Regions from separate parts of the Homo sapiens genome. Here region 1 is linked to region 2. The links come from fine-mapping of genetic effects on gene expression. A gene starts in region 2. The other region holds a variant in brackets. All regions are shown on one strand. Distances are from middle to middle.

Region 1 (5,371 bases), 120 kb after region 2:
AATGGCTGGACGTGGTGGGGAGGCCCAGGTGGGGAGCCAGGCAGAGGGGTGTTGTTAAAGCCCTGCCCCACTTCTGATCACAGTGGCCCTCGCAGGGAGTTCCACCCCTAAGGCACTGGCCAGTACCAAACCCCCCCGCCACCCACCCCCCGCAAAAAAACATGCTCCAAAATCAGCGAGGAACACAACTGACTGCAGCCACTGCACAGCGGGCCTCCTTCCGTGACCTGCTTCACCTACGCCTCAAAAAACAAGAAAACACACAATGTTTAAAACTATTCTCTCCAGTCCTGAGTGTCTCCACCTGGACTGCTCTAAAGAGGGTGGGAGAGAGCCCAGGCACACAGGGCCACCGTGGCCCATGCCCACCCCACACAGAACTGGGGGTCCAAGGCTGGAGCCATCCACAGGGAGGAAAGTCACGGGGCTGGGCAGCATCAGAGCTATCGCCCAGGCGTGGGCCAGACTCAGGAACCCAGGTGATGGGTGCCCACCGGGAGGTGATGGGTGCCCGCCGAGAGGTGATGGGTGCCCGCCAGGAGGTGATGGGTGCCCACCGGGAGGTGATGAGTGCCCACCAGGAGGTGATAGGTGCCTGCCAGGGGATGACGGCTGCCTGCGGGGGTTGATGGGTGCCCGCCGAAGGATGATGGAAGTGATGGGTGCCCACTGGGAGGGGGCAATTCTCTTCAGAGAGCCCTGGGTCCTCATATCTAGGGAGAGCCCCAGCCGGGCTGTGGGATCACAGAGCAGGGCTGACATTTCCCTCCGCATCTGCTGGCTCCAACCTGTCCTCAACACCACCAGCCCACAGCTTCCGGCACCCACAGGTGATGGCGATGCAACAATAACAGTGGAGAGCCTGCAAGACCGGGTGATGTCCACGTCCTTCACCCAGGGGCCCCAGCTCAGGACACGTGGGGGGTGAGAGACAGACTAGAAAGGACCTCACGACAATGGTGTTGCACTTAACAACCTCGGCATGGAGACAGATGAGCCCCGCATTGCACGATGGCCAGTCTGCACACAGACCCAGATGCCGTGACGCGGTGCGGGACAGAGGGACATGCACCCAGGCATTTACCTTCCACAGTTAGTAAGGAGAAAACTTTGAGAAAATGTGACAGACAGTTCGTCTTTCAAGCAGAGTGGGGGAGAGGAAGAAACAGGTTGGAAAAGGAAAAAAAAAAAGAAAATCTTTAGTAGGATTTTCTAGTGTGCATTTGAAATTTTAAAAATGAAGGTTGCATCACAAATGCCAGGTGATCTCTCGATCCCAAGCAGCCGGCACAGCCCCCAGGAAGGCACCCCAGAGCACCAGGTCCGGACAGTTGTTCGTCCCCATCTTACTGGGAAACCAAGATCACAGGGGTGAAGACTCTAGGCTGGGCGTGGTGGCTCACATCTGTAATCCCAGCACTTTGGGAGGCCAAGGCGGGTGGATCACCTGAGGTCAGGAGTTTGAGACGAGCCTGGCCAACATGGTGAAACCCCATCTCTACTAAAAATACAAACATTAGCCGGGCATGGTGGCGGGCGCCTGTAATCCCAGCTACTCGGGAGGTTGAGGCAGGAGAATCGCTTGAACCCGGGAGAAGGAGGTTGCAGTGAGCCAAGATCGCGCCACTGCACTCCAGCCTGGGCAACAAGAGCAGAATTCCATCTCAAAAAAAAAAAAAGACTTCAGGCCATGGCCTTGAGACCCCAGGGATTTCCCCTCCCCAAGTCTGGGTGTTCCTGCTGCCCCAGAGAAGAAATCCCTCAGGTTACAGGAGGGTATCCAAAGGCTGACCCAATGCCAGCAAGCCCAGAAGTCTCCACAGGCCCAGGGCACCAAGTTCCTCCCTGATAACAACAGCAGCCGTCATCCCCCACGCACTTCCTAGGGGCCAGATATTGTGCTAAGTGCTGTATCTATAGTCTCATTATGACAACTTTATGAAGTTATTATCTCCATATTACAGATGAGGAAGCTGAGGTCCTAGAATTGCTTTAACTTGCCCAGAGTGCCAAGGATAGAGGCCAGGAGGAGTAGAACCAAGATGCAGGCCTGGCTTGGTCTGACTTTCATCATAAATTCTGGTCACAGAGCCCAGGTGGACTCCTAGAATCAGATGTGGCTACAATCCTAGATGTGGGGTCACGCACCCAGGATGGACGGGACAATGGGACTCCAGAGTGAAATTCCAACCTGAGTCAGGTGTGATGGGTCCAT[C/T]GGATGTATTTTTGCTGAACAGGAGGGATTCTAGCAAACGCACTATTATGTTCATCTTGGAGATAGGTAAGATCAGCTTTAGCGGGTGGGGGACTATCCCCGAATGGCTCCTCCCAGTAGAAAGATTTCTTTCCTGGCAACATGAGGCCACGTGTCTAACGCAGGGGTCCCTAACCCCTGGGCTGTGGACCAGTACCCAGTCCATAGCCCACTGAGAGGCGGGCCACACAGCAGGAGGTGGGTGGTGGGTGGGCCAACATTACCACCTGACTCGGAGGAGCACACACGAGGGATCTAGGCTGTGCGTTCCCTTCAGAGAATCTAATGCCAGACGATCTGAGGCAGAACAGTTTTATCCCCAAACCATCCCCTACCCTGCCATGGTGGGGAAAATTCTCTTCCACGAAACGGGTCCCTGGTACCAAAAAGGTCGGGGACTGCTGGTCTAAAGGATCAGGACATGCACAGATGTAAAACCTTCAGGCTCCAAGTCCAAAAAGTTTCACACAAGGAGAAGCCCAGATCCTGAAGCACTGCACGCTGGCCCCGCGCATCACAGACACTGGCCCTGAGGATGGAGGGTGCGCCCCAAGAAGCTGGAAGTTAAGGGCAGGCCCACCTTAGGTAAGCAAAGCCTGGCTGTGGGAAGCAGCTGCAAGGGGGTGGCTGTGGGGGTACACGAGGGTCCAACAGCTGCCCATGCCTTGCGGGTCACAGGGCAGGGGCCTCAGGACAGCAGCAGGGAACGGGCACCCAGCCCACTCCCAGAAGCCGCAGAGAGGAGGCGGCCGGCTTTCTGAAGCAAGGGGCCTTTCAGGCCCCGGCTCTGCGGCTCACCTGCTGGAAGCACGGGCCGGTCACTCAGCCCCTCAACCATTAAACGGGGGACTGACTGCCCTGCCGACCTCCCAGGGTGGTCTTAAGGAACGTGGACATGGAGGACACTGGTACATCCTCTGGCCCTTCACCCCTTTGCCACCAAAATCTGAGCGCCATGCCAAACCTCTCCCATTTCCAAAGCCAGTCATTCTTTTCAGCATCTCAGGCTGCATTCCTCATCACACCTTTCCAGTTTCTGCATAAAGTAGTTAAGGTAACTTAAGGAGCAAACAGGAAATAAAGGGGCGGGTGTGTTTTTGGGGGGGCAAGGGGATGACACTTCATGTGGCTGTCATTAAAGTTCTGTGGCAGGAAGGCCTCTGCTCCTGGTGGGGAAGGGATCCCAGAGCAGTGGGAACACAGCCCCAGCTACCCAGTGGCTGCCAGAGCTAAGGCTGAACCTGAAACTCTGCAGAGAGCTCTGGGAGGAGCAGAAGTGACCACATGGGTTAGAGATGGAGGCTGCACCCAGCCCCGGGCGTGACTATGACGCTGAGCAGGCTCCAACCCAGGACAAACGGATCCCCAAGGGTCTCCACTCGGAGCTCTTTTGGGGTGTGGGGGGTCCTCATGGGGAGGGAGAGGCTCAGAGCTCAGGCCCCACCACACTCCCACTATTCCCCATAGGTTTGGTTTACAGATTAGGCTCTGAGTAAGTTTTCCTTCCAAAACAAAGGACACTCCTGGGGCAGGAGGGGGCTTTAAGGCTAATGGCACCTGGCACAGATGCAGCTCGCCACCAAGATCTGATTCTGATAAGGAAATGTGGATTTATGCCGAGCCCTAAACCACGGCCATTACACACCACGACCTGCAGCCCTGAGAGGGTAGGGGAGAAGCCAGCGGTCGTGCGGCGGTGTCGGAACACACCCAACAGTAGTGCAGCCACCATGACCGCCTGCACGCTTTTCCAAAAACATTCAGGAATCTCTCCTCCCTACTCCTACGCCCATCTCCTCCTTCCCCCACGGAAGACCTCACATCACAAAACTGCTCTCATCCTCAATATTTTAACAGGCAGGAGGCCAAATGAGCAAGCAGGAAGAAAGCAGTGCAAGCAGCAGCGATGATCGGAGAGATACTTACAGACAGGCTTGCCCTAGCAAAGGCTGCGGAGGAGAAGCAGAGAGAGAAGTCAGTCAGGAGGCAGGGCGCAATCTGCAGGGACGAAGCCCTGAAAAACCCCACGCCGGCCCAGCCAGCAGCTTCAGACGTCCCTAAGAACCTGGCCACCCTGAAGGACTGTCCTCCCAACGCCAGGGGCAGCTCTGAAGCGGACAGGAGGATGCAGCCCCTGCCACTGCGTCCTCCACGACGGAGGTCTGTGCAGCTCAGGATATCAACCCCCTTCCCCAGCCTGGTCCCCCCAAGCATCAAAGCAGCGGCCTCTGAACTTCCAAATACAACTGCACATTTCCATCAGAACGGATGCCACAGGGACACCATTTCAGTTCTGCTGGCTTTTCATAAAAACCCTCAGATCTGAGACCTGCAAGGGAATATGTATGAGAGCTCTCCCAGTCCTGCTCCTATCATGTGCAAAGCTAAGGAGACTGAGGGCCTGGGAGGGGAAGGAACCTGGGCAATTAAATTGCTGCACTCATGTTAGTGTGGAGCTACCACCAAAGCCAGGCCTCCAGGCTTCCGCTAATCACAGCCACCTCACCGTGTCTACGCGTCCCCACCACATGCCCGACACTGGGCCTGATGCAGGGCATGAATCCCCTCATCTGATCTGACTTCTGCACTGCCATTATTCCCCCATTGCCTGGATGAAAAAACTGAGGCCTGGAGAGGTTAAGTGACCTGTGGAGGCTGCAGCATCTCCCAGGTCACATTCCAGACATCATGAGGTCTAAGGAAGTCTCGGAAAAGGCGGGAAGAGGTGGCAGGCTGAAAAGGATGCTCAGAGCCAGCACCAGCATCCGGCTCATCAACAAACCTGACCGGAAGCTGCACTGGGCTGATTTGTGGGGGCAGGCCTGGAGGGTGGAGGTAGGGCAGACCCTTGGGTGGTACCTGAATTTAAGCACAGAAATTCCTACATCTCACATATTTGCAAGGGTTCCAGGCTGTAAAGGAAAAGACCAGTTTTCTGAAAACAAACAGTTTTCTGAAAACAAATCTTAATGTCTGACAACCAAAATCTTCCAGGCCTGTAACCTTCAAAATTAATGAAATAAGTGAAATCGGGTTGGGGTTTTTTGCTTTTTTTTTTTGAGACGGAGTCTCCCTCTGTCACCCAGGCTGGAGTGCAGTGGCACCATCTCGGCTCAC
Region 2 (5,300 bases):
AAATGTATATTTGTATTTACCTCTGATAATTTCTCAAAAGTCTTCTTAGTTTGAGCACTAACATTGATTCTCTAGTTATGCTTGCTACACAGAATACAGGGCATCTATTTATCTGAAAATATTCATTATCCCATATTGTACTAGAGCCATATCCATTCTTTATCTGACACATCTGAAATTAGTTGTTATTTATCTGAAATTCAAATTTAATTTGATGTACCACATTTTAATTTGAGAAATCAGACAAACCTAGTTCTTAACATACCACCTTCACAAGACAGCCTGGCTAGAATACTCCACTGGTCTCTGAGCAAAAGCCTAATCCCCTTAAAGAGTCTAAGCCCATTAACCTATAGCAGCCAAACTGAGTGCTGTAAACAACCTCTATTTTTGAGCTCCTGATCTTCTCCATTAGTCAAGACAAATTAGAAAAACAATAAGAAAGAGAACAACCCATCATGACAATGGAAGAACCAGGCCATGATCTTTCCAAGCACAAACTGCAGCATTTTAGCATCTTCCCAGCACTGCTTCCCTGTCTATCCCTACCTGTCCTCCCCTGCCTCTGACATTAGTCATCATGATGCCTTCCTGCTTCTCCAAGGGACTCAGGATCTGATCCTTGCCTCCCCATCCAACCACCTGCCTGCCTGCCTGTCTCCCTCTCTGCACTCCAGCCAGCTTGCATGTCTCTTCGTTCCTCCCCTGCACCAGGCTCCTTCTTGCCACAGGATCTTTGCACATGCTCTGGCTTCTGCTTGGAAAGCCTTCTCTGTCTCCTCCTCCCTCCTCCCATTCCTTGGTTAACTCTTAGTCATCCATCATCACAGCTGCAAAGTCACTTCCCTAGGGAAGCTGTCCCTTTTTGCAGGCTGGTCAGCTTCCTCGGATCTAAGCTGTTAAAAGTTCTGTGTATTTTCCCTTCTCTACACTTACCATAGTTGACATTTTATTTTTGCTCTGGGATTATTTGGTTAATGTGCTAGAATCAAAACTCCAGAAGGGCCAGAACACTATGGCTTTTTTTGTTATCACTATGTTCCCAGCACTCAGCAAAAGAAAAATAAAAAACCAGACCCTCATTGTCACCTAATGGTGGTACTGTAATTCTCTCATTCCTTCCAAATGTATCAGCTGAATTTTTCAATAAAGAAGACATTTCCCTTATCAGCTCTTCCGTAACTGTGAGGTACAGTTTATACAAGAAAAGCAGAATAAATGCTTGAATTTTCCCCTTCTATTTACCAGTTTTCAGAATAATCAGAGGTGACAGACTCCTCCAAAGGTAACAAATGAGTTTGGTTTTACCGTTTTGAGTATTATGAATTCATGGATGTATACATGTTGATGTGTTTCAGTCCACTAAAGTCATTATTCTTTGGGATGCTCAAATTGTCTCATTGTTGGCCAGTAGAAGCCTGGGCCCTTTTGCCATGACCTCAGTTGTCTTTAATAGCTGTCCGGCTTGTATGACAAGACATTCTTGGATCCCCTTGTACAGCTCCTGACACCAATCTGGTTCAGCTATTTCTTCAAGAAGGCCTGGTTCCTTGTACATTCTTATTCACCTGTGGTTTCAATTCCCTAGTCTCTAAAAGAAACACTACAAATAGAAATTCTGTTCTGATTTTTCTCCTGTACAGCGGACCTGTATACCTAACAGATGACTGGGCATTGCCATCTCTGCCCACAACACACATCCTGAATTTGACTTGTTTGCACATGAAGTCATCATCCCTCCCCAAGATGGGCTCTCTATTATGCCTTCCTTGGGGATCAGTACTTGGAGTCGGGTCAGGGCAAGATACTGTTAGTGACATGTGGAATTCAGCCACACCATCATGAGAAGGTCCTCTCTGTGTGTTCTGGCTAAACCAGCCTTCTACCAGGTTAGCACGATTCTGGGCTTTGCAACATTCATGACCTGTTTGAGGGCACTGAAGGAGATGCTCAGCCACATCCCTTAATTTGCATGAGCCTGTAGGAAAAATATGTTTAAGAAGTCTGGCTGTCTGAGCAGGCCAAAGGAGAAGATGGAAGAGAAGGTGGTTTCCTGAAAGCATGAAGCTGTATCTGTTCATATTTTGACACCATCCCAGGAAGAAGAGGCTGAGGTAGGAAAGTACAGTCAGCTCTGGGAGTTCCCTCTGGAGAAGCTGGCTATGAGACGTGGAAGAAGCTCCCCAGCTGCAGTAGAAGGCACGAGAAGGTTTCAGGCTTTCCAGGTGGGCGTAGAATGGGCAGCAGCACAGGCATAACCTGGAGTGGCACAGGTGCCAGGGAAGAGGGCAGACGCCATGCGTGACATAGCAAGGGGATCACACCGCATCCATTGTGCATGAGACCACTTTTCACCACCCAGGCGACTCAAGGAGATAACTGGATGGGTGGTTCCAGGAAAAGAATGGACATCCTGCTAGGCCATCATATGCTGTCTCAGAGCACTGAGGTTTGATAAATGTGGTGAATTTGGAGGCACTCACAGCTGAGTCCCAGCACAGAGTGGGCACATAAGCAACACCATTTTCTCATTGCCCAAGCCAGCCCCTGCCCACAGCACCTCCACTTCCCAGAGCCACACCCAATCAATGGCCAACTTATGATTCTAATCTTGAATGTCTGTCGAGATCTTTTCCTTCTCCATCACTAAGCTCTCTCCTTTAAGTAAAAATTTTTCTCCTGGAGGAATGCCTCCTGGCTGATGCTTCTGCAAATCACCTCACTTCTCTTCAAGCCCTCCTCTGTTACAGACTATTCCAAATTTTTTTTTGTTTTTTTGTTTTTTTGTTTTTAACTTTTGCCTACCTTGTCGGCTCACGCCTGTAATCCCAGCACTTTGGGAAGCCGAGGTGGGTGGATCACCTGAGGTCAGGGGCTCTAGACCAGCCTGGCCAACATGGTGAAACCCTAGCTCTACTAAAAATTCAAAAATAAGCCGGGTGTGGTGGTGGGTGCCCGTAATCCCAGCTACTCAGGAGGCTGAGGCAGGAGAATCGCTTGAACCCAGGAGGCGGAGGTTGCAGTGAGCCAAGATCGAGCCACCGCACTCCAGCCTGGGTGACAGAGTGAAACTCCATCTTAAAAAAAAAAAAAAAAAATGCCTACCTAAATCTAACGTAAAACTTTGAGCTCACTCTGAAATATATTCATATTTACTTACAAGGGGAAAATGCCCTATGAACTGAAAATTATGTGTATTTTAGAACATACACAAAAGAGAAGTTAAAAGAAAATGAGAAAAATAAATAGATGTGATAATACTTTATTTCATTACTCCGATTAATAGTCTTACCAAACTCACCCGAAGACTGCCTGCAAAGTTCTTGAAGGAGCTTGGGATTGTAGGTGCTTTTGATGTTTTATTCAGACTGGACTAGATGCTTTAACCCTGAAGGTGCATCTTACGTATCTAAAAAAGACTTCCCTTAGGGCTAAACATAACAGAAAAGTGATGAATGAAGGAATCTGTCCAACATGTCATCTTTGATTGAAGATAAATACATTCATCTTATGGTTCTAGCTCTATTAAATTGAGTCTGTTTAATACACCCTGTCTGCAGCTAAACTAATTATTTCAGGCTGGATTTTCAATTTCTTACCTAGCCCTAGGATAAAACACAGAGTTGAATGGTTACGTAATCACCAGGTGCCGCTCAAGTGGTGATTTTTCAAATCAAGTATGGATCTCAAAGAAGAGAAGCAAATAACAACAGAGATACTTCTTGTGCTAGGGCCCTGGTTGCAGGACGGTGTCCCACCAGGCTACAGCTCTTAAATGGCAGAGCTGCTGCTGACACCTCTGTCGTTCTTGCAAGATCAAATACCAACTGCGTTGACTTCAAATCTGGCTTAAAAATAGGCCTAGCAGGCATAGTTTTCTCATCAAAACAAATTAGCCTAAAAAATAGCATTCCGAGAGACCAAGGGTTAGGAAAATTGTCCTGTGAGTGTTTTGAATTCTTTGTCACCCTTCATAACTGGTGCCGTTCATGAGGGAGCTTATTGGCTTGGGGGATGACAACTTGAACAGCAAAACAGGATGTGTCACCACCAGGCCCCCTGCTCTGCTGCAATCTACGAGAATTAATCAGTTTTGGGTTTTTTTGTTGGTGGTGACGGTGGTTTTTTTCCTTTCTTTCTTCCTTTTTTATGTCAGCGTCTCAGATGGGCACACACTGAAACAGCTTCTTATTTGCATGCGGTGTGGCCTGGCGAGGGTGAACTGAGGACACGCAGAGCTCCCTCTGACTTGGCACCGGCAGGAAGTCGGCGGCAAGAAGCTACCACTTTTCAAGCCTGGGTGGCTTTTTCTTTTTTCTCTGTCATTCATTTTGGAAGAAAGCATAAGTTTGATTTCAAACAGAACACAAAAACTTGGAAGGAGGGCCAAACACAGGCAGGCAGATGATTCTTGTCCCCACTTTTACTTTTTTAAAATTTAATTGGAGATGCTGCAGAGGTGGCAGAAAGGGGCCAGAGGATGGTAGGTGCAGACTCGCTGCGGTGACAATGCCCCGGGCATCCCCTTTCTGCACAGTGGGGCACGGCATCCAGGGGCAGCCTCCTCTCCAGACACCTGGGCAAATCCAAATCTGTGTTTCTTTGTCATTCACCTGAGGAGAAGTCCCTTATTCCAACGACCACTCCCGTGTGAGCGGTGACAGGTTTGAGCAGAATGAGTCAACGCTGAAATGATGCCTGTGCCATTTCACAGGAATTTGCTTCTTTCTCGCTGGTTTTCAGATGCAGTTCGAGGCTTCCGTTTTTTTCTCTGGATTTGAATCTCGTCCACAGATCACTGCTGCCTTGCAGCTGAGTGTGTCATTTGCAGCCCTGCTGTCTGGGGCCCGAGACTCCACACAAGATGTGCTCAGAGAAGCAAATGAACAACTCTGCTCTGATAGGGGCAGCAAAGAGGCAAGCAGCTACCAACAGAAGGACACTGAGTTTCTGGGGGTGGCATCTGGCCAAGGTTCCTGTCATCTCTCTCAGATAAAACACCAAATTCTTCCCCAACAGAAGCAGCAAAAACATATAATATAGGCCAGCGCAGCGGCTCACACCAGTAACTTATGCCTTGGGAGGCTGACGGGGGAGGATCACTTGAGGCCAGGAGTTGGAAACAAGACTGGGCAGTATAGCAATATCCTGTCTCTACAACAAAATTTTAAAAATTAGCTGGGCATGGTGTTGCATGCCTGTAGTCCCAGCTACTTGGAAGGCTGAGGTGGGAGGATCACTTGGGCCCAGGAGGTCAAGGCTGCAGTGAGCCATGATTGCACTACTGCATTCCAGCCTGG

Evidence for each region. PIP is the estimated chance that this variant, and not a neighbour inherited with it, causes the effect. A credible set is the group of variants that fine-mapping cannot tell apart.
Region 1: its variant is the best candidate, but not a certain one, in a credible set for the expression of LINC02656 in whole blood (TOPMed, PIP 0.78).

What each region holds. Positions count from the first base shown.
Region 1 is chr10:6,227,028-6,232,398 of GRCh38, reverse strand. The region is part of intron 14 of PFKFB3 (6-phosphofructo-2-kinase/fructose-2,6-biphosphatase 3); the gene reads right to left. Among named protein-coding and RNA genes, the nearest start is that of PFKFB3, 27 kb to the right of the region's middle. The variant C/T (reference allele first, on the strand shown) is at 2,216.
Region 2 is chr10:6,347,102-6,352,401 of GRCh38, reverse strand. It overlaps LINC02656 (long intergenic non-protein coding RNA 2656), which reads right to left and starts at 2,086. Exons shown (of 1, transcript NR_148966.1): 1 at 1-2,086. RefSeq lists a cis regulatory region at 3,892-4,392.